Linked DNA regions of Homo sapiens. The gene in region 2 interacts genetically with the main gene of each other region. Each region holds a gene or a part of one and is shown on either strand. Other genes may lie near its edges.

Evidence for each region.
Region 1: changes in ATP5MF (region 2) and MAPKAP1 together harm fitness more than expected from each alone (negative genetic interaction), as found in Homo sapiens cells (one large-scale study listed by BioGRID).
Region 3: changes in ATP5MF (region 2) and DONSON together harm fitness less than expected from each alone (positive genetic interaction), as found in Homo sapiens cells (one large-scale study listed by BioGRID).
Region 4: changes in ATP5MF (region 2) and EIF3H together harm fitness more than expected from each alone (negative genetic interaction), as found in Homo sapiens cells (one large-scale study listed by BioGRID).

The regions. Positions count from the first base shown.
Region 1 is NC_000009.12:125,670,195-125,678,810, reverse strand, and holds part of MAPKAP1 (target of rapamycin complex 2 subunit MAPKAP1), read left to right. Parts: intron 1-3,513; exon of another isoform or gene 3,514-3,657; intron 3,658-6,167; 5' UTR 6,168-6,236; coding exon 6,237-6,495; intron 6,496-8,616. UniProt on the Homo sapiens protein: Component of the mechanistic target of rapamycin complex 2 (mTORC2), which transduces signals from growth factors to pathways involved in proliferation, cytoskeletal organization, lipogenesis and anabolic output.
Region 2 is NC_000007.14:99,455,480-99,463,332, reverse strand, and holds the end of ATP5MF (ATP synthase F(0) complex subunit f, mitochondrial), read left to right. Parts: intron 1-3,139; coding exon 3,140-3,247; intron 3,248-4,069; coding exon 4,070-4,186; intron 4,187-4,977; coding exon 4,978-5,006; 3' UTR 5,007-5,138; downstream 5,139-7,853. Other genes in the region: CPSF4 (cleavage and polyadenylation specificity factor subunit 4), read right to left, coding at 6,833-6,901; ATP5MF-PTCD1 (ATP5J2-PTCD1 fusion protein), read left to right, coding at 3,140-3,247. UniProt on the Homo sapiens protein: Subunit f, of the mitochondrial membrane ATP synthase complex (F(1)F(0) ATP synthase or Complex V) that produces ATP from ADP in the presence of a proton gradient across the membrane which is generated by electron transport complexes of the respiratory chain.
Region 3 is NC_000021.9:33,582,185-33,585,928, forward strand, and holds part of DONSON (protein downstream neighbor of Son), read right to left. Parts: intron 2,585-3,744; coding exon 2,406-2,584; intron 1,483-2,405; coding exon 1,304-1,482; intron 63-1,303; coding exon 1-62. UniProt on the Homo sapiens protein: Replisome component that maintains genome stability by protecting stalled or damaged replication forks.
Region 4 is NC_000008.11:116,743,724-116,752,339, forward strand, and holds part of EIF3H (eukaryotic translation initiation factor 3 subunit H), read right to left. Parts: intron 3,404-8,616; exon of another isoform or gene 1-3,403.

The DNA.
Region 1 (8,616 bases), on a different chromosome or scaffold from region 2:
GTGTATGTAAAATTATCCAAAATTATATTAAGACGTGATGCCCATCAAAACCTAGTAAAAATTATTCCCATGTTTAGAACATGTTCCTAGTTACCACAGGCAGGTTTCATGATCATTAATGAATACAGATGGGTGTGTAATCTGGGAACAGTATCCAAAGTGCATCTGAAACCACTCTTAGCACTTAGTAGAAACTTAGTAAATATTTGTTGAATATTTATTCATTTGAAGTGTAAAAGGAGACCCACCTAGTATATTAAAAATGCCTGGGCCGGGCGCGGTGGCTCACGCCTGTAATCCCAGCACTTTGGAATGCCAAGGCGGGCGGATCACGAGGTCAGGAGATCGAGGCCATCCTGGCTAACATGGGGAAACCCTGTCTCTACTAAAAATACAAAAAATTAGCCAGGCGTGGTGGCGGGCGCCTGTAGTCTTAGCTACTCAGGAGGCTGAGGCAGGAGAGTGGCGTGAACCCGGGAGGCGGAGCTTGCAGTGAGCAGAGATAGCCACTGCACTCCAGCCTGGGTGACAGAGCGAGACTCTGTCTCAAAAAAAAATAAATAAAAATAAAATAAAATAAAAATGCCTGTGTTGGCCTGGCATAGTGGTTCACGCCTGTAATCCCAACACTTTAGGAGGCCAAGGCTGGTAGATAGCTTGAGCCTAGGAGTTCAAGACCAGCCTGGGCAATGTGGTAAAACCCCATCTCTACAAAAAATACAAAAAGTAGCCAGGCATGGTGGTGTGAGCCTATAGTCCAAGCTACTTGGGAGGCTGAGGTGGGAGAATCACCTGAGTCTGGGAAGTTGAAGCTGCAGTGAGCCGTGATCATGCCTCTGCACTTCAGCCTGGGCGATGGGAGTGAGACCTTGTCTCAAAAAGAAAAAAAAAATTGTGTTATTTTGGGACATCTCTTTCTTTCCTTCTACTGTGCATGGATATCCCTATTGCTTCCATTTTTAGTAAAACAAATCTTTATGCTTTAAAGAACGTGGTGTTAAAAAGTGTGAGAAAGAAGCTGTGAAAAGTGGGAAAGCTTAGGCAAGGTGATATTATTTATCTGTGGCCTAAAGGTATGTAAAAAGGTCTATCTTATTTTATTATTATTATTATTTTTGAGACAGAATCTTGCTCTCTCGCCCAAGCTGGAGTGCAGTGGCAATTTCGGCTCACTGCAACCTCCACCTGCCAGGTTCAAGAGATTTTCATGCCTCAGCCTCCCGAGTAGCTGACACTATAGGTACGCACCACCACGCCCCCCTACTTTTTATATTTTTAGTAGAGACGGGGTTTCAGCATGTTGGCGAGGCTAGTCTCGAACTCCTGACCTCAGGTGATCCACCTGCCTTGGCCCCCCAAAGTGCTGGGATTACAGGCATAAGTGACTGTACCGGGCCTTATTATTTTTTTCAGATGGAGTCTTGCTCCGTTGCTGAGGCTGGAGGGCAGTGGCACCATCTTGGCTCACCTCTGCCTCCCAGGTTCAAGCAATTCTTCCACCTTAGCCTCCTCGCCCAGCTAATTTTTGTATTTTTAGTAGAGATGGGGTTTCACATGTTGACCAGGTCGGTCTCAAACTCCTGACCACAAGTGATCCGCCCGCCTCGGCCTCCCAAAGTGCTGAGATTACAGGTGTGAGCCACTGCACCCGGCCAAAAGACGTCTGGCTGTGTCAGAGAATCAAGAGTTGGTAACATCCAGGGAAGGCATTCAAGGCCTGAAGAGACAGCATTTGTGAAAGTGTAGAATAGCATTTCTAAACCTTGTTCTGTGAAACGCTGTTATACATTGATATGTTTAGTATTCCTACAGAAAACAATATTTATGGATGGAATAAGTTTGGGATATATTGTTACTAGATTCCTCCCTCTTGGAGAGTCATAATACACAAAGTACATAATTTAAAAGCTTTGGGAAGTCCTGTGATGAAACAGCAAGAAGAAAACCTCTTTAACTTGGTTGAATCTGGTGTTTCCTAGACTTTTTAAAAAAACTTAAAAATTTTAAATTGTGGTAAAATATACATGGTATAAATGATAAGTAAAATTTACCATTTTAACCATTTTTAAATGTGTAGTTCATTGGCATTACATACATTCATATTATGGTGCAACCGTCACCACTGTCCATTTCCATAACTTTTCCATCTTCCCAAACTGAAATGTACCCGTTAAATACTTTTTCCCCATTACTACCTTCCTCCAGCTCCTAGCAACTGCTGTTAGACTTTCTGTCAGTTTGACTGCTTTAGGTACCTCATAAATGGAATCATACGGTACTTGTCCTTTTGCGACTGGCTTATTTCACTTAGCGTAATGTTCTCAGGGCTCATCAATGTTGTAATGTGTCAGAATTTCCTGTGTTTGAAGGCTGAACAATATTCCATCGTTATATACCACATTTTGTTCACCCTCTACCATGTATTGTTAATCGCTACTTAGTATTGTGTTGTTTGTATGTGTCATGGCATATGTGTACTATTGTAGGTTCCTTTTAGATTTCCAGTATTACAAATTACTCTGAGATAAATATTTTACACAATTATCTCCTTAGAACAAATCCTAGAAGTAGGATTGCCCAGATAGTATTCATGTTTTATATTTTGGTAAATATTACCAAATTACCGTCTAAAAAGTCCCAGTTTTCATTCCTTCATATTGTGCATGAGAGTGCCCATTTCTCTGAACCCTTGCCAGAGTTAGATTTTTAAAAATCTTTTTGATCTGTGCACAACTGATCAGAGAGTACAATTTGTTTTTATCCGTGATATGTATGTCCTTGTCTTGGAAATCAAACATAGCTTCAAATGATAATTTGCTGCTCTTTGGGAGATTTTTTAAAATATTCTTTTGGGTTTTGAAAAGTAGTCTTGTTAGAATAAGTTGAATAGTGTTCCAAGGGGACAATTTTGAAGGGCACGTTGAAGAGATGCTCTTGTATTACGAAAAAAAGACAATCCTTTATTTATAATCACACACTTACACCTGGCACATTCATATATGACTTATCTCTACAACAAAATTGAATAGTCCTTGGAAGTTAGACAGCAACATTTATTGAACTCCTGCCATGTATAACAGCCTTTGTTGCCAGAAGGAATATGGTGTTATGAACCCTGTCCTTGTGGAACTTATAGTCTAAGTCTTTAAGTACATGTAATTGGAGGTAAAAAGTGACATACACAATAATATGTTTTCTGGGGCAGTCCTGTGGGAGTTCCATATCAGAGCTGGTAGGGAATAAATATTTTTTGAATGAATCATACAGATTCCTTAATGTATGAAGTCATAGTGTCCTAATAGAGAAGATATCTGCTGCTGTTGAGGCATTTGTTCTGGGAGGATAAAGCTGGGAAGTTGGTATGTGCCTTCAGAAGTGTTTGCCCATTCCTCTTATCTTCAGAAGTGATCTATTTCCCTAGAATAGATTTTATTGAGGGCACTTCAGTATACTTTTGTCACTTTGCCTTTTGCCATTTGACTTTTTGGTGCTAGAACACCTATTAAATATCTGATCACTTCTCGGCCTTTTGGCTAAGATCAAGTGTATTAAATGTGTGACTTCTCATTAAAGCCCTTGTTTTTGCAAGGGAGAACTATTCAGTATGAATTTGAAAGCACCTGCCTCTCTACTGGTGACTAGCTGCCTTCCTTTCATGCCAGGAAGATGGCTTATTGTGATTGCTGTAGAAGGATGTTTGCAGCTCTGATCTGTGATACTATGCTTCCACAAATACTCTCATTTATAAATAAATGTGTGGTGTATACATTTTTTATGGTTATAGAGAAGTTTGTATTTTTACAAGTGAAATTTAAATGCTCATTGTTAATTTCATATTTTTTTCTGATCAATATCCTTAAAATGGTAGATTGACACTAATACTTCAGGGACCAGATATCTCAGAAATTTGATGCTTAAAGGAATCCCATGGTATTAGGAGATGTACTCGGTCTGTATTAGGGTATTAACTTTTTGATTCAGGGATACCTTACTCACCTTTGCATTTCCCATTAGCCTCAGAGTAAAATAAGTACTCAAGGAATATATTAAGAGGAAAAAAGTGAAGATTAATGTAATTTGCTTGATTAGAGATGCTCCTCAGTTAAATTTCTTTTTAATCTCAGTATCTTTATTTTAAGACCCACTTTAAGACACATCAGCAGAATGATGTGTTTCCAGACAACAATTTTTAAAACCTTAGTTAACTGTAAGGATTTATTAGCTAGATTTCCTCTCTATGTTCCATTTCTAGAAGAAACAGATTACAAGAAAATCTGGTGTTATAAGTCCTTCTGAAAGTAAGTATCTTCTAGGACTGTTCCTGGAAACATAGTCAATCCAGCTTTCATATTCCTTGTACTTCTCAACAATTTTGCAGGGGCAGGGAAGTCACTCAGATGACTTGCAGTGTCCTCTATCACAAAGGAAGCACAGACTTATTTTATGTGCCACGAACTTACTAAGACAGATGGGATATTGACATATTTTAGGACTACTTTAAGCAAGAATTGATCATTGAAATTATTGATTTTTTATCATTATTATTAATAGCTAACATTTATTTAATTACATGCCATGTATTTTTTTGAGCATTTTACCTGCATTATCTCCTGAAGCTTCCATTTTATAAATGAAGGAAAAAAAAAAGGGAGGCTCAAAAAGGTAAAGTATTTTGACTGAGATCTTATAGCTAACGAGTAATAGGGCCAGGGTTTGAACCCTTTCTGTCTCTAGGGCCTAGTACCTAACCGTTGTCCTGCAATATTTTCTTTGTTGAGTATTTTCACTTAACTGAGAGGGTGCTATCTTGTTACTAGAACAAATATTATTACAGTGTTTTTTGTATGTTTTGTTTTGTTTTGTTTTTAGAAGACAGGGTCTCACTATGTCACCCAGGCTGGAGTGCAATGGTGCAATCATAGCTCACTGCAGCCTTGAATGCTGGGGCTCAAGTGATCCCCCCACTTCAGCCTCATGAGTAGCTATGACTACAGGCATGTCCCACCATGCTCAGCTAATTAAAAAATAATAATTATTATATATATATATTTTTGTAGAGATAGAGTTTTGATTGTGTTGCCCATGTTGGTCTTGAACTCCTGGACTCAAGCAGTCCTCCTGCCTCGGCCCCCCAAAGGGTTGAGAGTACAGGTGTGAATCACTGTGCCCGGCCTCATTACAGTTTTAACAGGACTGAGGAAGCAGTTTTTATAATTAAGTTTCTAAAATAAGAAGTTGATTGTATAGTAGGTAATTTTGATTATAAATTTTATTTTAAAAACACAGGCCAGGCATGGTGGCTCACGCCTGTAATCACAGCACTTTGGGAGGCCAAGGCGGGCGGATCAACTGAGGTCGGGAGTTTGAGACCAGCCTGACCAACATGGAGAAACCCCATTTCTACTAAAAATACAAAATTAGCTGGGCATGGTGGCGCATCCCTGTAATCCCAGCTACGCGGGAGGCTGAGGCCGGAGAATCTTGAACCTGGGAGGTGGAGGTTGCAGTGAGCCAAGATCACGCCACTGCACTCCAGCCTGGGCAACAAGCGCGATACCCTGTCTCAGAAAAAACACAACAACAACAACAACAAAAACACAATACTATCTTGACAGGAAAATATATTCATTGAGCAACATTAATTTGGTGGTACATCATTTTTATAAAACCCCTAGTAACTCTGAAAGCATTGTCTGTGCCCTTTTAAACACTTCACAATCATATGACAGGAGGGGAAATGTAAACTGATGAAATAGAGTTTTGTACTTTAGCACATCATTTGAGGAAAATACAACTTGTTCCCCCATGACCTTATAAAGTAATGAGAAGATTGCATGATAGTGAAGGGAGAAAGAAAGGAAAATATATTGTTTTAACAGTAGTTATGTGCTTCGAGTGGCCTGACTTGTAAGGAGTTGCTGTGATTTGTTTTGCAAGAGTGCAAGCCTTCCTTTCTGATTCTATAGAGATCTCATTGACTAGAGCTGCAGCCCCTAGTGCTTATAAGGATTTCCTTTCAGCTTAGACTAAATCCTTTTAAGCTCCACAGAACAGGGATAAATGTTGATTTTCAAGGTGGCATTTTACTACACTGAATGTGTCTGAAAAATGATTCAGTCATTTTCTGCCTTATTCTTAAATATTTGCTGTGTACATCATGTTTCTAGGTAGGTGAGCTCGTGAAACAATATGAAGAGGAGAAAATAGCCTTTTAAGGAAATTGGCCCACAGAAAGGATGGCCTTCTTGGACAATCCAACTATCATTCTAGCTCATATTCGACAGTCACATGTGACCAGTGATGACACGGGAATGTGTGAGATGGTTCTCATTGATCATGATGTTGACCTAGAGAAGATTCATCCTCCTTCAATGCCTGGAGACAGTGGGTCAGAAATTCAGGGAAGCAATGGTGAGACTCAGGGCTATGTATATGCCCAGTCAGTCGATATTACCTCAAGTTGGGACTTTGGTATTAGAAGACGCTCAAACACAGGTAAACATTGTGTTCTAGTCATGTCTTCTGAGCTTTAAATCAGTAAACAGTCTTATGGAATAATGCATAATATTGGAATAGGCTTAATGGGGGATGTTTCCGGGTATTAATAGGAACATGCATATGTCAGACTAAGAGTGAGTCTGAGCAACATCTCCATCTCTGCGACTGCGAATGGAGAGGGCCTCTAGAATATTATTAGAAGTAGACAGAAGGGGGATAGTGAAAAAGTTGGTTAGGAGAGACATGTTGGACATTTCTAACAAGTCATTGTGTAGAAAGGCAAGTGGACTGGCTTTGAGTGTCTTCACACAGCAACATTAGTCCCAGTAGGTAGACTACCCGGAGACAGATTTCAGGTTGACATAATAAAGAGCATTTAATACAGAGAGGTGACCACCCAAAGAGAGCAGGCACTTCTTGCCCCTGGAGGAATTGTGGGGGAGTGGGGAAATGGGAGGAGACACCTGAGTATTTGTTAGGGCTGGTTTTAGTAGGATTCTATACATAGGGTGTGAGATTAGAAAAGGGGCCCCTGTTTTTGATACTTCGCCTTTATTTTCTTAAATTGATCACCTTTTGATTTTTCTGGCTTGAAAACACTCAACTTTGGTATACACGTATTTAGTCATTAGCTTTAAAAGCTTATTGCCCATTTTCCCACTTATATTTTTTTGGTGGCCTTGTTTCAAGGGGAATGTGATGAACCAAGGACTTTTTTTTTTACTTAGACAAATTATTTAGAATACATATTGTAGTTCTAATATGACAGGTATTCTAGGAGGTAATTTTTTTTAGATAATCAGAAAATATAATCTTCAAATTAGCAGTAACCTGCTAACTCCCAGGAAAGGTAATGGCAAGGAGATATAGTAGAACACTGAAAATACTTACATATTTATTTTCATGGTCCAAATGTAAAACACACATAAAGGAATATTGGAGGTAGAGCTGGATACAATTTACTGTGAAAGGCACATTCAAGTTTTGGTTCAGAATTCAGTATCTGTGACATAAGAATAATTTGCTCTCATGATGAAAATAATTAATAGCATTTCCCAGTATCTAAAGGAACTTTTGTCAAAATAGGATTTGAGTGAAGGTTTGAATATAATTTAGAACCATTGATTTTCAGTTCTCTAGTTGAAACTGACTTCCTTGCAGGTTATTGAGATGATATCTTATATGACAGGTTGAATGTATTTCAGTGGGAGAATGCTGCTAAATTGAGAGCTTTATGATTATATTACTTTGGCTGTACCCTTCACATTTATTAATTGCAATTGAATGTAGTTTTCTTCAGTGTTGGTTAGATATAGTGACATTGTCAGAATGCTCTTCCCAGCATAGTTTAAATTTCTGGTAAGATTATTTTCAGTGTTTCCCTACCACAATGCTAAGGCAGAAGTGTATAATTTCCTATCTTGAAAGAGGCGGAAAAAGAGATGTATTTATTTTCTATTAGCAAAATGCTGGGATAGGAAGCTGAAGATTAGCAAGAGAAAACTGATTTCAAGAGATGGCATCAATTGTGACTTTCTTTTTTATTGTGGTCTCTGTATGCGGCAGTTGTTAAGTGCATGCTGGGTGGTATTTCTCTAAAGGATCAGTTCACTGATTTTTGAAGGTTGATCAGCCAGTGGCAATATAATCACAAATGCATAATTTTAGGTGACTCTTGTTGGAATTTCTTTAGGTAGCACTTAGATGCTAATAATTAATTGAGATTGTAGGTTGTCTTAGTGACCAAAGAATTTACTTTTTAATCCATGCAGCATATCTTAAAATTTTGTAAAAGAAAAATTGTTCTTTTTAAGATTTGACTAATGTTACAAAGATACAAATCATTTATTTTACTACCTATAAACTGTTTCAGCCCACTGAAGAAAAGCTATGCTAATTTATATAGCTTTGACATTTTATAATTTTCATGATTTTTAGATAAAGGATTTTATATTTAAAACTTTAATAGTCTAGTCTGAGTTCATTTATCTTTAATTTTTGAAATGGGTAGAGTAATTCATAACAGTAATTTTATTCCTGTAATGTAATATTCACTTCAGTTCATTTGTGCATTAAAATTCCTTTAAGACCGTTATTAATGATTTATATAATGAAATG
Region 2 (7,853 bases):
ACTATGCTATGAAGACCTTATGTGGCCTGCAAATCCAAAAATCTTTATTCTCTGGACAACCCCCAGGTTGGATTTAGCACTCAGGAGAGACTTGCTATTTCCATGTGGCTTCATAGTAATGAACAGTATGTTTCCTCTCGAGGATCTGTGGTTCTACAACCATTACTGAGAATCTGTCGTGTACCAAGAAGTGGTGGGGATATTCGCACCTTCAGGTAGCTCATAACCAGGCAGAAAGGTGGTAATAGTTCTCATTTACATAGTACCTAGGGCCAAGTACCAAGGATTTCACAAAGGAGGAAACTGAGAAGGAGTAGTACCTTGCCCAAGGGCACACACCTACAAAATGGCATTAAACCCAGAATGGCACTAGACCCAAGGGTCTGCTCTGTCTCTGAACTCTACTGGGTCTCTTTATGTGACCCAGTGATTGCAGATGGAAGCTTCAGTGCTGCAGAGGAGCGGGTGTGTGTAGAGTTGGGGTGGGAGTTCCAATAGGGCAACCAAGGACTGAGGCCTTCCTTTGCCTTCCAGTGAAAGAGAAATTCGTGGAATAAGTATAGATGCATCTTGGATGAACTGGATAGTCCCTTGCAGTGGCACGATCTTGGCTCACTGCAACCTCTACCTCCCAGGTTTAAGCGATTCTCCTGTCTCAGCCTCCCGAGTAGCGGGGACTACAGGCACACGCCACCATGCCCAGCTAATTTTTGTATTTTTAGTAGAGATGAGGTTTCACTATGTTGGCCAGGCTGGTCTTGAACTCCTGACCTCGTGATCTGCCTGCCTTGGCCTCCCACAGTGCTGGGATTACAGGCGTGAGCCACCGTGCCCTGCCAAATGTGTTAGGTTTTTGTTTGTTTTTGACACGGATTCTTGCTCTGTCACCCAGGCTGGAGTGTAGTGGCACAATCTCAGCTCACTGCAAGCTCCGCCTCCCAGGTTCACGCCATTCTCCTGCCTCAGCCTCCCTAGTAGCTAGGACTACAGGCGCCCGCCACCACACCTGGCTAATTTTTTTTTTTTTTTTTTTTTTTTTTTTTTAGTAGTGATGGGGTTTCACCATGTTAGCCAGGATGGTCTCGATTTCCTGACCTCAGGATCTTCCCGCCTCAGCTTCCCAAAGTGCTGGGATTACAGGCGTGAGCCACCGTGCCCGGCCCCTGATGTGTTGGTTTTAAGGAAACACCCTTGTCTTCATAATACAGAGATAGAACTAGGAAGAAAAACAAGTTGTAAATTGTTGCCTTTTTTCTCCTGTGATGTGCCAGGCTCCATGCCAGCCCCTGAACATGGTAATGAGATGCAGAATATGTCTGCATAGTTTATGTGAATGTGAAAAAATGGCTTCACTGGATCAGGAAGTGAGTTTTCTGGCCTGGTGCGGTGGCTCATGCCTGTAATCCCAGCACTTTGGGGGGCCGAGGTGGGCAGATCGCCTGAGGTCAGGAGTTCGAGACCAGCCTGGCCAACATGGTGAAACCCTGTCTCTACTAAAAATACAAAAATTAGCTGGGTGTCGTGGCGCATGCCTGTAGTCCCAGCTACTCAGGAGGCTGAGGCAGGAGAATCGCTAGAACCAGGAGGTGGAGGTTGCAGTGAGCCGAGATCATGCCACTGCACTCCAGCCTGGGCAGGTGCAGTGGCGTGATCTCATGGTGCAGTTTCACCATGTTGGCCAGGCTGGTCTCAAACTCCTGACCTCAAGTGATCTGCCTGCCTCGACCTCCCAAAGTGCTGGGATTATAGTGTGAACTACTGTGCCCTGGCCTCCCTCAGCAGACTCTTGAGGCTGGTCCTGACAGAGCCTTAGTCTTTCCTTTGATCTCAAAATGGAGAAGAAACCTTGGGATTATTTAATCTGGCTCCTCTTGTGGTTATCTTTGAGAAGGCACCGTGGTCCTAGACTCTTTGCCCTCAATAGGACATCTGCTAAAAGCTTTTTAAAACTTATCATTAGCTGGGTGTGGTGGCACACACCTGTAGTCCCAGCTGTTCAGGAGGTTGAGGCAGGAGGATCACTTGAGTCCAGGAGGCTCAGTGAGGCTGCAGTGAGCTGTGACCACACCTGTGAATAACCAGTGCACTCCAGCCTGGGTAATGGAGTGAGACCCTGTCTCTCAGAAATAAATAAATAAATCTTTGCAGGGAGAACAGGGGAGACGATTCCTTTCTTAAATGCATCTCCTTGACGCCCACAGGCCCACCCACTCCCTGGCCCTCCATAGTCTCCTCCTGGGCCCAAATGTGAGGACAGTACAGCCTCAGCCAGGAGCCCTTCTGATTCCTTGTTCTCAGACTCCCATTGGAATACGATCTGGGGCCGTTCAGTCATTTGGAGTGGTTTTTCGTCACTTGACTTCTCGGAATGTGTTATCTCTTATTTTTATCTCTGGAAATTGTTGGTGTCCGTGGTCCCAGGATGCTGGAGGTGGAAATTCCTTGGGTTTCTTTCATTATACTTGCTCGGGCTGGCCCATCTGGTGAGTCTGCCAGCTGTGTGAACCCAGGTGCTGTTTGAAGCCCTTCCCCAGTAAACAAGTGCGTCAAGTCTGAGTGAGACACTTGGCACCGTCACACCGCTCTCCTTCCACATCCCCTCTTGTACGTTCTCCAGCGACACATCCCCAGGGTTGGACAGGGCACCCTCATATTGGCTTCAGGGACATAGGAGGGCCAGTCCTGACCCCACGTTGTGTGTGTGACTTTGGTCACGTGGCCCAACCTCTCTGAGTCTATCCCCCCTCCCCTCCTTTAAGGTAAAGACATGAAGTGCTTGTTGTGAAGATTAAATAAGCTAATAATGTCAAGTAAATGTTAGCTTTGCAGTAATCTTTCCTGTCCGCCACGTTACTGCTTTTTTCGAGACCCTTTTCTGGAGTTACTCCCAGCAAGCTGTTACTCAGACGTCCTGTTGGTTAATAAAGCTGTCCCTGCAGCAGTTCTGCTATTGTATAGACTCAGTCTTAAAATAGTGGGCTTGATGTGACATATTTCTTCATAATATTGTGTATGTGCAGCCTCTGTGTAATTGCATTATGCACCTTTATTGCATAGTTGAAGCAGTGGCAGGAAAGGATGCCATATGTGTTACTGGGAGATTATTCAGTGGGTATTTTTTCTCACTCTTCCGTTTCAGTACCAGTGAAGGACAAGAAACTTCTGGAGGTCAAACTGGGGGAGCTGCCAAGCTGGATCTTGATGCGGGACTTCAGTCCTAGTGGCATTTTCGGAGCGTTTCAAAGAGGTCAGAGCCTTGTGGATGTCTGTAAATGAAAGCAAATCTCTGGGTCTTCAGATCTCTTTTTTGCCATGAATTAATTTGGGCAATGAAGGCCTTGTTGTCTGAAAGCAGTAAGTTATGTAGAGGATGACAGGGAGGGATGCTAGGCCTTGGACTTCTGTGGTTGATTGGCCCTTTCAAAGGCTGGCTCTGAGATATTACAGCCAAGAACATGTTTCCTGTTGCTTGGAATCAGTATGTCTGCCTCTGTCTTAGAGAAATCCTAAGACTTCTTTAAGAGGAAAATGAATTGGAACCGTAGTGGGCATTAGTCTATAATATGATGCTCTCCTCCCTGCCAGAACTTCAGGACAAATATTTGAAATGGCCTATCTTGGCCTGGTGTGGTGGCTTATGCCTGTAATCCCGGCACTTCGGGAGGCCAAGGCTGGAGGATTGCTTGAGCCGAGTTTAGACCAGCCTAGGCAATATGGAGAGACCCCATCTCTATAAAAAAAACCACACAAGAAAAATTAGCTGGCTGTGGTGGTGCATGCCTGTAGTCCCAGCTACTCAGGAGGCTATAAGCTCACAGCCAAAGGGGAGAGGTGGAATCCAGGTAGGCCTAGTTCAGGAGCTGGTATGTGCTTATAGTTCAGGCTATGGGGATGAGAGACCTTACTGGCATTTGTGCTTGTCATCTTTATCAGCCAGTGAATGCAGGGCGAGGGGCTTAAACAGCCAGAGCAGGACTAGGTCCCTGAATGTCAGCCAGACTCAACTGTGTGCTCAACTTCACTCAAATGTGAAGCCCAGCAGGGCAGTGAGCGCCTCTTGCGTTTGCAGGTTACTACCGGTACTACAACAAGTACATCAATGTGAAGAAGGGGAGCATCTCGGGGATTACCATGGTGCTGGCATGCTACGTGCTCTTTAGCTACTCCTTTTCCTACAAGCATCTCAGTGAGTGCCTCTGCGGCGTCTTGCCTTTAGTTCCCATGAGAGGGTGGTGGTGACTGATTTCATTAGATACAGCAGCCCACCTTCTTCTGAGGCTGAGGGACCTTTAGTTAAAGTTCCTTATGTTTCCACCTAAAAGAATTGGAGGGACCTATCAGAGTACAGTATGTGGGATATTGTTTGAAATGAGAAAATTGTGACAAAGAGAACACAGGAAAATCAAGATGAAGCCAGGGTAAAGAGAGTACTTAGAAGCATTCTTTAAAATACAGCACACTGTGAAAATTTGGCTCGATTTTCCTAGTAGCCAATGCAGAAAGAGAAATGAGTTGAGTGGGATAATCTGGTACCCCAGAAAAGCATGGCTGTTCCGGCTCTGAGGCTTGAGAGGAGCTTGTCTGGTGGGAGATTGGCGGGAGGTGTCGGTGGCAGCCTCTGACTAGGCTGTTTCTGACAGTGTAGTGTACACCCCCTACCCCCACCTCACTCCCATTCTGTGGCACCAGGGCGGTCCTGCCTCTGAAGGACGGGTTCTCTGGGGCTGTTTGTCTGAGCGTGTGTTCCCTCTGTTCCTTCTGGAAAGAAAGTGGTTGGCCAGGTGGCAGGTTGGCTCCTGAGGTGTCTTTGTGCCCCCCGGGTCTGCTGATTCTGCAGAGACACCGGCAGGCGGGTCATGGGTCATCTCTGAAGGGAATTCTCAGGAAGGCTTTGTGTGATCTCAGCCTGCTTCCTGCCATGCTGTGCCTTCACTGTAACCTTTTAAGATACTTACCATCTTGCCTTCCTGACTTCAGAGCACGAGCGGCTCCGCAAATACCACTGAAGAGGACACACTCTGCACCCCCCCACCCCACGACCTTGGCCCGAGCCCCTCCGTGAGGAACACAATCTCAATCGTTGCTGAATCCTTTCATATCCTAATAGGAATTAACCTCCAAATAAAACATGACTGGTACGTGTGCTGATTGCCTGCCTGTCTGCCGTAGCCATTATCCCATGTTCCAGGGGCTCCTGTGGCACAAGGTGGGGGGAGGTCGTCTTTCCAGGCCGTTGACCGGTGAAGGCCTTTGTGGACTTCCCAGACCACCACTCTGGTCGTGTCCCAGCTCCCTGGAGGGCAGGGTGTCATCCAGACCTTCCCGAAGCAGCAGTGCCGAAGTCCGTCCCTTGCCATGAGTGCTGTGGGCAGGTGCATTTGCAGACATTCTGGCCTTTAGTTGGCTGGCCCTTTATGGTGTAACACAAAGGCTTGCGTACCTGAGAGCGCCAGATCCCACCCCGGCTGTCCTGTGGCTCCAGGCAGGGATGGCCCGCATCCTGTGTTTCTGCATCACCCTGGGGCATCAAGGGCTACAGGGTGAGGTGACCCGGCACTGTCTGGAGAGACCTCAGGCAGCACTCACGCCCAGGCTGCAGGGATTGTGGCCCTCCGGCTGAGGCGGCTTCTCTAACAGGAGGCTTAGTGGGTTGGGGGTGATGGGGAAAAGTGAGGGGCTATGGCGGCCCCTCCCTGCTTCCTCTTCATCAGAGCCTCATTGGGGGTGGGATACTGTGCCCCAGAAATAGGTGCCACCAGACATCTGAGCTGAGGTGGAGGACCTGCCTGCTGGCTCCACAGATCAGACTCCCAGACTTGACCAGCTGCTTGCAGGCCTTCTGGGCAGCTGCACTTCCCTTTGTGAGGCTGACATTTGTTGAAAGGGACAAGAAAGCTACGCCGTGATTGCAGCCAGTGTAAAAGGGTTGGCATGAGACCCTTAATTAATGAGACATGGCTTAAAAAACAAGCTTTAATCCATTTCATAAAAATTGTTCTTGCAATTGAACACAGCCAGGCCCACATGCCCAGCAGGTTGCAGGAGACAGTTTCACATTTTCCAGGCTCAGGACAGGGCAGTCTCCTCCACATGCCACAGGTGTCTGAGTGACAGTGTAGACGCCTGATGGGCAGGAGGTAGGCACAGATGATCTGAAGGGGTCATCTATTTAAAAGTCTGCAACTCCAGTTCAACGGACACCTTAAACACTGTCAGGCACGTACCCCAAGAGAAAATTAAGCCCAGAGAAGAAAACCTCAGGCTTGAGAGCCCTGTACCCCTCCTCAACCGCTGCCACCTGGGACCAGGGCCAGCCTGAGGCAATGGGGGCACCTGAATTTGCCCCAAAGGGCTCCCTCATTCAAATCACAGATATAGGCACAGCTTTAGGATTCAGCAGGGCAGGGAGGGAGGAAGCAGGCGTGAGCTGGCCACAGCTTTGAATGACCTACCAGCCCCTGGCGTCACCAAGAACTGGTGTTTAATGAGGGGAATGACCACCGCCACACAGAACTACCTAGCCAAGCCCCTCCCCAGCAGCTGCCTCCCTCCCTGGATGAGGGGAGTTGTGCCGGGAGTCCCAGAAAGGAGGCATCGATGCCCAGCCAAACATGATGTCGACTGCAGGGACCCACAGGACACATGTCCCTTTTTCAAAAAATACTAAGGCAAAATGATAGGAAACTAACAGACGTGGCCCCTCAGAGTGATGAAACCCACGTGTCTGCGGGCCAGCTCGAGCCACAGTCGCGCCAACAAGCGCATGAAACAGTTAAATGCACACTCCCAACAGCGGGGCCCCCGGGCTGCTCGGAGCTGGCTCCAGCTGCTGTCACTGTCCACTGAGAAAGGCCAAGTGCCCTTTGGTGCATCTGTTGGCGTAGTGTCCTTTCTCGCCACACTGGGAACAGCAGGAAGTGGGGGAAGAGGAGAGACAGACAACAACACTGTTCAAATGCAGTTTTCAACTAAGGGAGTGCCCACCAAATCCCAAATCATCCACCAAGTCCCCAGTCGGGACATGACTCTGAAATTCTCAGTGGTACAGAGTTTCTTTCAAATTAGAGGGTGAGGGAGCTCAGGATGGAAAGTGCAGTGGTGCAGAAACTAGCCAGCAACTCCGCAGATGCAAGGGAGAACAAGGCCGCCAGAAGGCGACCTGCTAGCGACCTGCTCTTTCAGGCCCACAACTCTCCCACCTGGACACATGGCCTGCCCAGGGAGGGACTCCCAAGTGGGTAGCAGGACAAAGAGAAGCCCGTGGCACCTGAGCTCCGCCACCCCGTCTGGGGACCAAGCCCTTCTGCACCACAGGCCAGTCACTTACCTCTGAGCCAAGGTCTGGGGTTCCCTGGCAGGAGATGGGAGGGAACAGCATCAGAAGTGTCCCAGCCTCCCCTCCCTTGGGGAGCCACTGCTGGGGACAGAGGGTGGGCTGTACCCAACGTTTTCCCTCGTGGCTGTGACACACCTAAGCTACCTTGGGGACAGGTTTTGATTACAGGATCAGAGAGATGGGACGATGCTTAGACTTGGGTAAGGGGAGCCTGCAGAGCCACATGACAAATCCAGCCCTGACCCTGCCTCATCCCAGTCCTGATTATCCAGGCCCTTCCATAGCTTCTCTTTACTCTATGACTCCTAAAACGGCAGCCTCAAGCACTGAACAAAAGGGTCAGGAGGCAGCTGGGGGCACTGACTCTGTACTGACACCCACCCCTGAGTCCCTGCTGCCCTGAGGGGCTCTGCCCAGTTGGCACCCAACACTCTTGCCAGCTCTATTCCCTGGCTCTGCAATTCCTGTTTTCTTTCTTCTATGTTGGCCAGGATGGTCTCGAACTCCTGACCTTGTG
Region 3 (3,744 bases), on a different chromosome or scaffold from region 2:
TCCAGATGCTGTCTCCTTCTTATGGCCACTTTCTTTTATTAAAGGCAGAGAAAATTCAATACCTATATGAGGAACAAAAATGTAACTGAGTTGTCATTTAAAGTATTTAACAGGCATGCTGTACTTTTAGAGTGTAAAAAATTTGAAATGTTAGTTTTTACAAATGATCTATTAAGGCAGTAGAGTTTTCAAGCTTTCTTCACAAACCTACAAACATGCATAAAACGTATTCTCCTTGAAAGAGGTTCGGGAAACAACACATACATGTAACACTCTTTCATAAATCATATTGTATTCCAGTTCACTTTTTGAAAAAGTACTGATTGGGCCCATTAAGTAGATTTCATGATCCACTAATGGGTTTACTCAGTTTGAAAATTTTGTTATTAAAGGGGTAATTGGTACTATAGAAGAATTTCTAGAAGAGTATATTCAGATAGTGACTATCTGGCCCAATATGTGTTTTATTTTAGAGATCAGAGAACACTATGTGGAAGGAACAGTTTAAATCAGGAGTCCCCAACCCCTGGACTGTGGACTGGTACTGGCCTGTGGCCTGTTAGAAACCGGGCTGCACAGCAGGAGGTGAGCGACTGTCGAGTGAACATTACTGCCTGAGCTCCATCTCCTGTCACATCAGTGGTCGCATTAGATTCTCACAGGGGCACGAATCCTACTGTGAACTGTGCATGTGAGGCATCTAGGTTGTGCCCTCCTTATAAGAATGATGATCTTGTCCGGGCGCGGTGGCTCACGCCTGTAAGCCCAGCACTTTGGGAGGCCGAGGCGGGCGGATCACGAGGTCAGGAGATCGAGATCGTCCTGGCTAACACGGTGAAACCCCGTCTCTACTAAAAATACAAAAAATTAGCCGGGCATGGTTGCAGGCACCTGTAGTCCCAGCTACTCGGGAGGCTGAGGCAGGAGAATGGCCTGAACCCAGGAGGCGGAGCTTGCAGTGAGCCGAGATTGCACCACTGCATTCTAGCCTGGGTGACAGAGCGAGTCTCCATCTCAAAAAAAAAAAAAAAAAAAAAAAAAGAATGATCATCTGATGTGTAACAGTTTCATCCCGAAACCATCCTCCTCACTGCCCATGAAACTGATCCCTAGTGCCAAAAAGTTTGCGGACTGCTGGATTAAATAATTGTGGGGGAGGGAAAAAAAGCCAGAAATAAAGAAATAATATATTTCTTAATGTTGCTAATCAACTGGTAAAAGGCATTTTAAATTTAAATAGCTTTTAGGCCAAAATAGGTTTACTATATAGTATAGTATTCTCACTTTAAACCTAAACTTTTACCTTCATTTCTCATAGCTTCTCTTAAACCTCGAGTTGTTGGAGATATGAGAGCTGTGATTAAGTCACTTCCAGCTAATCCTGCTGCTCGGAACAGGACAGTAAACTGATAGGTACAAACGTAGAAATAGGGGCAAAGTTTTGTCTTCAGCAAATTATATAGAGAAGTAAAGCTCACAGACCTATGAAGTAAAAAAATTTTCTTAAGGTATTATTAAACATTTAATGCAATGTTTATAATTCTGAATAATTCAGTTTGATACCTGGTTTAAAACACAACACAAATATTTTAGATAATGGTTTTAATTTTTGTGGTTACGTATGACTTAGCTTTAAAGGACTGAAATTGGTTATGAGGACTCGCTGATGACTTCTCAATACTTTAACAAATAGTGTATACCACTTAAACACTTATTTTTTCTTTAAACAAAACTTAATTGAGAATTGCCTGCTGACTTTCTCTGAGCTGCTGCTAAAAAAGGAAGCAGAGACTGACAAGAAGTAGCATTAAAGAATTAGGGCTGCGTGTTTATATATATATATATATATATATATATATATACTTTTTTTTTTTTTTTGAGACGGAGTTTCGCTCTGTCGCCCAGGCTGGAGTGCAGTGGCGCGATCTCGGCTCACTGCAAGCTCTGCCTCCCAGGTTCATGCCATTCTCCTGCCTCAGCCTCCCGAGTAGCTGTGACTATAGGCACCCGCCACCACACCAGGCTAATTTTTTTTGTATTTTTAGTAGAGACAGGGTTTCACCGTGTTAGCCAGGATGGTCTCAATCTCCTGACCTTGTGATCCGCCTGCCTCGGCCTCCCAAAGTGCTGGGATTACAGGCGTGAGCCACCACACCCGGCCTGCCTGTCTGTATATATTTAACCAACACTTATATACATTCTACCACAATTGGGTAAAGAATGAGTAACAGCTAAAAAAAAAAAAAGTAAACAGTTTATATGTTGGTTATTAATAGGTTCAGATAAAATTCACAAGGATCTAGATACCCTTCTGCCATTAACGTATCCAGTCACAAATATGATAGAGAATGCTGCTAAAATAAAATTCACTATTGAATTATACAAGTTTCTCTTACTAATCTTACCAGTCACTCATTAAAACATGCTGCAGGGTTGCATCATTTGACCAAGGACTTGTCTTTCCAGCCATTTTTCTATCAGCTCCAATACGAGGGAACAGTGGTAGCCAAGACAAAGCAGGGTGGAGCCAATAGATAAGGCTCTGCTGGAAGGTACAACGGAGCTCAGAGGAGAGTTTGGGATCCTAAAATCCAAAGGTGACAGTGGGCAGTTTTTGCCCATTGAGAAATAGAGAATTTTATTAAAGACAATCTTTACCAAACACTTAGGTCTAAGAATCTTTATTGCTTTCTATAGGAAAGCATTAATAATTGTTATAGGAACGAAAACATAGTTTATCCTTATTTGAGCCAGATGTAATGGTAAGCCGTAGTATCAGAACATTTAAACATAGATGGGAACATTTTCCTGTTTCTACCATCCTTAAGGACAATGACTACCTTTTTTATCATGAGGAATAGGGGTGGGCATGTGTGTGTAGGTAACACTACATCCAACCCTCTCTCCAAAAGGCTGTTTTAAAAGTAGCCAGTAAACACTGATACGGCAAATCACAAATCATCCTAATCTATTTATTGAAAAGATGTATAATATACCAAGACCTTTTTCAGGGTAATCCTTTTTAACCTAGTTTGAGACTTTAAAAAAATTTTTTTAAGATAGTCTCACTCTGTCACTGAGGCTAGAGTACAGTGGCACAATCAGAGCTCACTGCAGTCTTGACCTCCTGGGCTTAAACAATCCTCCTACCTGAGCCTCCCAAGTAGCTGGGACTACAGGCACCCACCACCATGCTCAGCTAATTTTTTTTTTTTTTTTTTTTTGTAGAGATGGGGTCTCACTACGTTACTCAGGCTGGTCTCAAGCAATCCCCCCACCTCAGCCCCCAAAATGCTGAGATTACAGGCATGGGCTATTGTGCCCAGCCTCCTAGTTTTGAGTTGATGCTTTAAAATAATCAAAATGTATATCTCTAAAACCATTCTAGAACTCACAAACTCCACAAAATTCATAAAATTTTTCTTATACAGGTAAGAAAATCTGTAAATCCATCAGCCCTTGCAATCCCACCCAATTGCTTTTCACTTCTTTCTTTGTATTTTCTTTCTCAAAAAGCCTTAGAGAAAAATAATTTAACAATTCTTGCCTGCAACACTGATTAATTTGCAAGACAAGTCTCTAAATGTATGAGCAGTTACTCAATCTGACTTAAAAAAAAAAAAGGTATGAAAGCACCATAAGCACCATCTGGGAAAGACAAAACTTCCTGTCTTTGTATCTTTAAATTTCCAAAGAAAAACTTAATGGAAGGCAGCATCTGCTATTTTGCAAAGGAGAGCATTT
Region 4 (8,616 bases), on a different chromosome or scaffold from region 2:
CTCCAGCCTGGGCGACAGAGCGATACCCTGTCTCAAAAATACATACATATATATATATATATATATATATATATAAACACACACACACACACACACACACACACACACACACACATATATAAATAAGTTGGGAAATAAAGTTTGATTTTATTTTGTGTGTAATAGTGATTTTCCAAAGGGTTGAGTTTTAGGACTACAGCTGTCCATTGAGAAGATAACTTAGTCAGCAGCACTGTCCAAGTACAAAATAAAGTCTGTAAGACCAGTTATACAGGCTTTGGTGATAGTTGAGAAAGAGTGCAAGAACTGAACAGTACAGACAATGTAGTTATAAATTCAAAGAACTAAGTAAGTGATCTTAGGAAAAACCTCAAGAAATAGTCAAAGACGATACCAGAAGCCTTCATGACTTGGGTAGACAGTGGTTATCACTAATGGACAGGAAATAAAATCAGATGGCGACAGGGAGAGGTGGAAACATAGAAAGTATTAAAAAAAAAAAAAACAAACAGTAAGCCTCAAGATACAATAAACATCTGTGGCACTTAAGTACCACTTTAGGTACTATTTTGGAGGCAAAGAAAATCTTAAAATTTTATGCCAAAATGCAGCTGATGTTTAAAGGGTCAAAGACTCAAAGGATTAAAAATATATATATTTTGACTAAGTTAATACTGAGTTATCACTGTTTTTCCTGAATCCAATTTTTCTCTTATATGCTTGAGCATGGTACCAACATTAACAAGAATATGGCATATTACTCCAGCATATTTAAGCATCCACTTCAGCCCTTTCAGTTTTGATGAAACAAGTACAGTTTGTCATCAAACAGCTAAGTAAATTACACTACACTTTGCTATTAAACCTAATCTTTACTGCATATAGCCATTTTAAAGAATGATCTACCTACCAGTAGTAGTTTACAAAAAACGAAGCCATATTCTCTTTAAGATATTATCTAAAACCTTGCCAAATAAAATAACATCCAAGTACCGTAAATTAAATATTTTACGAAAAACATTATAAACTAATTTTGAAAAGAAAGCAAATGCAACTAAGTTTTCTGTAAGTGCTAAAATTAGGAGCTTTTATCTAAGAAACGACCTATGGTAGACTTGATGAAGTAAAAGAAAATCTAAACACAAAAATAAGAACTTGCAAAGATTCTTTTCAAACTTCATGCTTTGTAGAGGCTTTTTTCTCCAAGGTATGGGCTAGGACTGAGCTGCAAGTCCAGAGCATTGCTGCCAAGACTTAAAATACCTGGAGTTGCTCAGCCAAACCAATGAAGTCCAAGATATTGAACAAAAGATCCAAATTTATCATATACAGAAACCAGTTGAAGCAAAAGGTGACAAGAAGGCAAAAGATAAAAAATGCTTATTGTACACCCACACCTTTTAATGTTAAATAGATATGTGAGGCATTAACCATATAAATCCAGGCCAGATTTGCTGTAACAACTAAAGTTAAAATATTTTGATCATATTCCATTTACTTGGGAAACCATCCAGTTTGGAATCCAACAGTAACTATTACCAACTATTAAAATCAATATCTACTACTAAAAATCATATCAACAATGTAAGAAATTACCCATTCAGGTTCTCTTTATTACAGTAGGAAGGCCATTCACTATCTTCATATCAAACTAAGGCCTAGAGATCATAACTGATTTATTAAGTCATCTCCTCCATGAGAAGTACTGCATATGCTGCCTTAAATAATACCCAAGAAGACAGCTACAAGAAACAAATGATAGATTGTCATCACTAGCATATATGTCACGAACACAGTAAGCACTGTCAAAAAGCAAATGGCAATGAATTTCAATAAGGTGTCTGACCTTAACAGAAAGGACCAATGGCCCAGGATGTTTGCAGGTTTATCCAAATCTTGGGAGGAACATAAAAACGGAAAAGTCTGGCCCAGTGTGGTGTCTCATCCCTATAATCTCAGCACTTTGGGAGGCTGGGGCGGGTGGATTGCTTGAGGCCGGGAGTTCAAGACCAGTCTGGCCAACATGGCAACACCCCGTCTCTACTAAAAATACAAAAATTAGCAGGGCATGGTGGCACACAGCTACTCGGGAGGCTGAGGGGCACGAGAATCGCTTGAACCTAGGAGGTGGAGATCACAGTGAGCCAAGATCGGGCCACTGCACCCCAGCCCGGTCGACAGAGCAAGACTCTGTCTCAAAGGAAAAAAAAAAAAGGAAAAGTCAGATGGACTTAGAATTACCACCCAATGCAGGTAAACTAACTTACTTAGGGACACGTACCAGTACTCTTCCCAATGCTCCTTAATATGCTGATTTTCTTTACTATTGATCCCCAGTATCTTAATATGTGAACTCAGCAGTTTAAGGTTGCATTTTTCCAAACTTCAGAATATTTACTAAATTGACTTCTTATAGCTACAAATCTTCTACAATATGACTGATTATCAAACGTAAAGATTCTAATGTATGTTTTCTCATACATTTTAAAGTTAGAAGTCTGTAAGACACCTGAGTTCTGAAAAACATATTTCCCAATGCTCAAACAAGAAGCACTAGATTAACTATTCTGTACACACCTTAACTTCTATTTCCTCCATCTGTACATTAATCAAATCACATAAACTATTTGTACCCACGTCTCCCCATTGATAAAATAGGGATAATGATGGTTCCTATATCAAAGAGTTGTTGTATTGCTTCAATGCCATAATAAATACACAATACTTAAAACAGTACCTGTCACATAACACAGAATAACTACTGGGGTCTTCAAGTATATGAAGCTGCTATAAAATGTAAAAGAAAATGAGTCAAGGATGGCTAGATGTGATCTGAATTCAAGCTCCAGGATATATTCACTTTATGTCTTTGAAAAGCCACCCAGCTTCTTGGAGTGGGAGAATCACATGTATAATCCAGATAATACTAGTCCGCCCAGTTCCTGGAGCTACCAAGATATAATAATGTACGCTAAATGATTTTTCTATTATAAAAAGTTACTATTTGTAAGCAATAACATCTTACTTGCCTAAGCAAAAAATATAACTAAGCAATCAAAATGTCAGACTGCATAACGAATTTAATCCTCACTCACAAATACTCAGGTTAGAGATAATCCTGCATAACTGGTTTTTCACTCACAGCAAAAAAAAACCTGAAAAGCAAGGGGATAAGAAACAGATAAATTTAACAACCAAAAAAGGCACCAACTAGAAACATAAACCACTCAAGGCACCTAAAGTTCAACAACAGGGGACATTTATTATAGAAATAACAGACTACCCGAAGGGATTTCTTGACAGATCTACTGTCCTGTCTGGTTCAATAACATGTTTTTTTGTTTTTTTGTTTTTTTTGAGACAGAGTCTCTGCCTGTCGTCCAGGTTGGAGTGCAGTGGTGTGATCTCGGCTCACTGCAACCTCTGCCTCCCAGGTTCAAGCAGTTCTCCTGCCTCAGCCTCCTGAGTAACTGGGATTACAGGCATCCGCCATCATGCCCGGCTAATTTCTTTTGTATTTTTAGTAGAGATGGGGTTTCGCCATGTTGGCCAGGTTGGTCTCGAACTCCTGACCTCAGGTGATCCGCCCACCTCAGCCTGCCAAAGTGCTGGGATTACAGGCGGGAGCACGGCCCAATAACATGTTCTTAATGATAATACTATGCCATCAAAACATGGTTAGATTGTGTTCCATGTTCTCTGACTAAAGCAGCAGAAAATTATGTATTACACTTCAGAAACACATATAATTAAAATAGCTAAAATGTGCAAGTTTTGGTGCTTGAAAGGATTTCAAATTATCTGACTGAAAAAATTATCTCACATGTCAAACAACTTACGTATGCACCACTCAAGTCAGAAAACTGGAAGAAGAGGCCAAGGGTCATATAATTTTTTTTGTTGTTAAAACATTAAAAGGCCAAACTGTATTATACTTCAGACCAGGATCTCAGAGAAGAGCTTCCATTTCAATGGAATTTAAACAAGCTGTTGTCCAGTCTCTTTAAATTCATAAGAGTATCACAAAAAATCTACAGTGACACATGTGATAGCCTGGCATTACAAATTCGAAGTATTTGATTCAACTCACAAAGCATTCCCACCAGCCTGCTGCGGTGGCTCACACCTGTAATCCCAACATTTTGGGAGGCCAAGGTGGGTGGGTCACCTGAGACCAGGAGTTCGAGACCATCCTGACCAACATGGTGAAACCCCGTCTCTACTATAAATACAAAAAATTAGCCAGGCGTGGTGGCGCATGCCTGTAATCCCAGCTACTTGGGAGGCTGAGACACGAGAATCGCTTGAACCTGGGAGGCGGAGGTTGCAGTGAGCCAAGATCCACTTGAACCTGGGAGGCAGAGGTTGCAGTGGGCCAAGATCATGCCATTGCACTCCAGCCTGGGCAACAAGAGCAAAACTCTGTCTCAAAAACAAAAAAAAAAACAAAAACAAAACAAAACAAAATAAAAAACAAAGTACTTCCACCAAAATTTTTCCATTAGATTTGAATAACCATCAGGTAGGTAAGGTAGTGATAACATTTATCCCCAAAGCTGTTGTGAGGATCACAACATCTAAAATTTAACAAAAAATTTAACCAAACAACACAAAATTTAACCAAACATCCCTGTACAGGGTCTTATAATAGGTGTCCAATTAATATTAGTGATTTTTCAAACAGATAAGAAATCAACAAATAAAAAGATGGAGAAATATGAACAAGCCCAGAAAGCTAACTAGCTTATCCTCAACTGTGTGCTCTTTTCTCACCAACACTCAAGCATTTACTAACCCAGTTTCTTCATGATTGATTTTCAAGAAAATTTCCACACAACAGGAGTATATTCATTCATTCACAACATCTGAGTGCCTTCTATACACGAGGTACTGTTCTAGACCCTTAGAAATACTGTAGTGAACAAACCTGACATGGGTGCCACTTTCAGGAAGCTGATATTCTAGTGTGAAGAAATAAGCAACAAGTAAAAAGAGTTTCAGACAGAAACAAGGACCAAACTGGATACCAAAATTCGCAGATGCTCAAGTCCTTTATATAAAATGGTGTAGCATTAGTTATTGCATATAACCTAGGCACATCTTCCTATATATCATCCCTAGATTGCATATAACATTTAATACAATGTAAATGCTATGTAAATAATTATTATACTGTATTGGTTTTTATTTGTATTTTTAGTTGTTTTTTTCCTAGTATTTTCGATCCATGGTTGGTTGAATCCATGGATGTGAGATTGCTGGATTCAGAATCCAAAGATATAGAGAGCTGACTGTATATGTAACTCATACTTTTCTATTTATTAATAACATACTCTACCTTACTTACAAAACCAGGGGAATAAGGTATCTAATAAGATAACTTAAAGGGGAAAACAAAATTTAAAAGGTAAGAAATTTCAATAGCAATGGGTTTCAAGCACTGAATTATGGAGGAGACAAATGTTTTATACTTCAGCCTTCAAAAGGGTTATCATCTCAATGAGAAGGGGAAAATATATTAACAGTAAATCACTAACAGTATGGATCACATACCAAGGTGAATGATACAAGCTGTCATTAAAAAGCTCAGAGAAAGGAAGAGAGCAAGCTTCTTCTCAAACAGTAAAATGCTATAAATCACCTGATTGTGTAGGTCAGGAGAGGGGCCTGAGATTCTGTGATACGTATGTCTGCATTTCTAACAAACTCAAGTGTAGCCAACATTGCTCATCTTACTGGACATGGATCATACTTTGAATAGCAAGGTCTAATGAACATAAGAAAGGTAAAATTCAAATGTTCTAGGGAACAAAGTGGGTTCAACATGAAAAGTTTAACGGGAAGAATTAGCTTGATCTTGTCTAGGAACAATGAGACCACCTGACAGAATGAAGACCCATTCTTTCTTTATTTTTGTTTTTTTTCTTTTAACTCATCTGTATTTGTTACAACTTTAAGCAGAATGTGACTCAGGCACTACATTTCCATCCACAAGACTAGCTCTGAGTTATTTTTGAACAGCTTTACGACATGCTTAGGTAGGCTTATAACTTTGCTCCTCCAAATGATACTTTTCTTTGGAAAACAAGCCCTGTGGAGGGCTTACTTTTCTTTGGAAAACAAGCCCTGTGGAGGGACTGCTACATTACAGATACAGAGGAAGTGATGAAACAGGTCTAAAGGTAGGAAAGGAAGGGTTCAAAAATACAAGAAAAATTGGTCTTGGCCACTATCAATGTGCCAGGAAGGAACAAATGTGTTAAAACATCAGGCTAAACATAGGATGAGATTAATCTCTGGGTTCATCTACATCTATATATGACTGAGAATGGTCATGAGAGTCGGGACTGGGTTCTACCTTGCTCACCTATATAATATCTTATATAGGTTACTGCAATATACCCCAGCATGTAGCAGGGCTAGACCTGGCATGTGGTCGGCAATCAATAAATATTTGTTAAATGAATGAAGAACAGAATACATCTGGAGTATACAGATTCAAGTTAAACTATATGGAGAATTTTTAAAAAAACAGAGTAAGTCGATTAAGTCACATTTTTTATTCAATATGTGATGATGAAAGAGAACAATTTCAAAGAGAAAGAACTTCATGAACAAAAGCAAGGTCATGCTTACTGCTTTGAATAAGGATGTGACTCTAGGTCTGTCTTTAGCATGACTTTTTTTTTTTTTTTTTTTTTTCTGAGACGGAGTCTCGCTCTGTCGCCCAATCTGGAGTGCAGTGGTGCAATCTCGGCTCACTGCAAGCTCCGCCTCCCCGGTTCATGCCATTCCCCTGCCTCAGCCTCCTGAGTAGCTGGGACTACAGGCACCCGCCACCACGCCCGACTAATTTTTTGTATTTTTAGTAGAGACAGGGTTTCACCATGTTAGCCAGGACGGTCTTGATCTCCTGACCTCGTGTGATCTGCCTGCCTTGGCCTCCCAAAGTGCTGGGATTACAGGCGTGAGCCACCACACCTGGCCTTTAGCATGACTTATTAAAGAAAAAACTAAGTAGTCTGAGGGGCTGGAATGTACAGTTCCTACAAAGCTTGGAAAGAAAGGAAATAAACCTGAACATAAATGCAAGAAACAAGGACAACATTTTGGTCCTTCAATTCAATGGAAAGTCACTGAAAACATCTAAGGAAAGAAGTTAAAATCTGAATGTTCACGTTAAATAAACGTTTTAATAAAAGTATGAGGCCGGGCACGGTGGCTCACGCCTGTAATCCCAGCACTTTGGGAGGCCGAGGCGGGCGGATCACGAGGTCAGGAGATCGAGACCATCCCGGCTAAAACGGTGAAACCCCGTCTCTACTAAAAATACAAAAAATTAGCCGGGCGTAGTGGCAGGCGCCTGTAGTCCCAGCTACTTGGGAGGCTGAGGCAGGAGAATGGCGTGAACCCGGGAGGCGGAGCTTGCAGTGAGCCGAGATTGCGCCACTGCACTCCAGCCTGGGCGACAGAGCGAGACTCCGTCTCAAAAAAAAAATAAAATAAAATAAAATAAAATAAAATAAAAGTATGAATGGTAGACTGAAGAAGGCAGGGGAAAACAATATTAAAATAACCTGCATAAGATATTAGAACATAAATTAGTATAAATAATAAAATGGAATACATACTCATTCATTTATCCTACTTTGTGAATTAACAGGTTCAGCACTGGAGATAAAACAGGTGAAAAAGCATAGTCCCTGCCCTCAGTAGCATACATTCTGATGAGGAAAACAAAGAAGAAAACAAACAAGATAGTTACAGGCTGTGGAAAATTCTAGAAATATAGGGTGCTGTGATGGAAAGTAAGGAGAAGAACAAGTCTATAATTCTATTTTGTACATGTTAAATATGAGATGCCTATGAGATATCCAAATAGTGACGTCAAACAGGCAATGGGTATTCAAAAGAGGCATTCAAGAGCCATTACTGGCAGAAATATAAATCTAGGACTTATTAGAATATAAATATTTAAAGCCGTGAGCACAGATAAGAATACCTTAAAGAATACTACTATAATTACTGCAAATAAAGCAGCAGCAAAGCTTAAATGGTGACTTATTCTGTCCCAGACATTGTTCTAGTTATTGACATATATTCAATCCATTTAAAGTCTCAAAACAATTCAGATGAGGAAAATGAGGCACAAAGACTTGCCCAATGTCATGCAGCAAATTTCAGAGCTGGGATTCAAATCCAAGCAGTCTGGCTCCAGAGCATGTACTTTTATCAACTTCGTTACACTACCTATGTCAAGCAGAGACTAAAAGAAAAGCCAAAACCTAAACCATGAGGCACTCCAATATGCACAGATGGAGAAGAAACATAAAAGGAAAGGAGTAAGTGGCCTAAAAGGAAGGATAGTGATTGACTGGGGTCACACACCAATAAGAACCCTCAGGATTCAGGTATGAAAGCAAAAGAAAGAAACCATAAACCATGAAAATTGATAGGGATAGTGGCAATCATTTTGTGGATGAGAAAATGTACCTTTGGAGTAAAACAATCATAGAAGTGTTGTTAGTTACTGGTGGATGCAGACTGGAATGCATGTCTCCTGATTACCAGGAGCACTGAAGTGCTCTTTCTACAATTCCAATCTACATTAGCAAA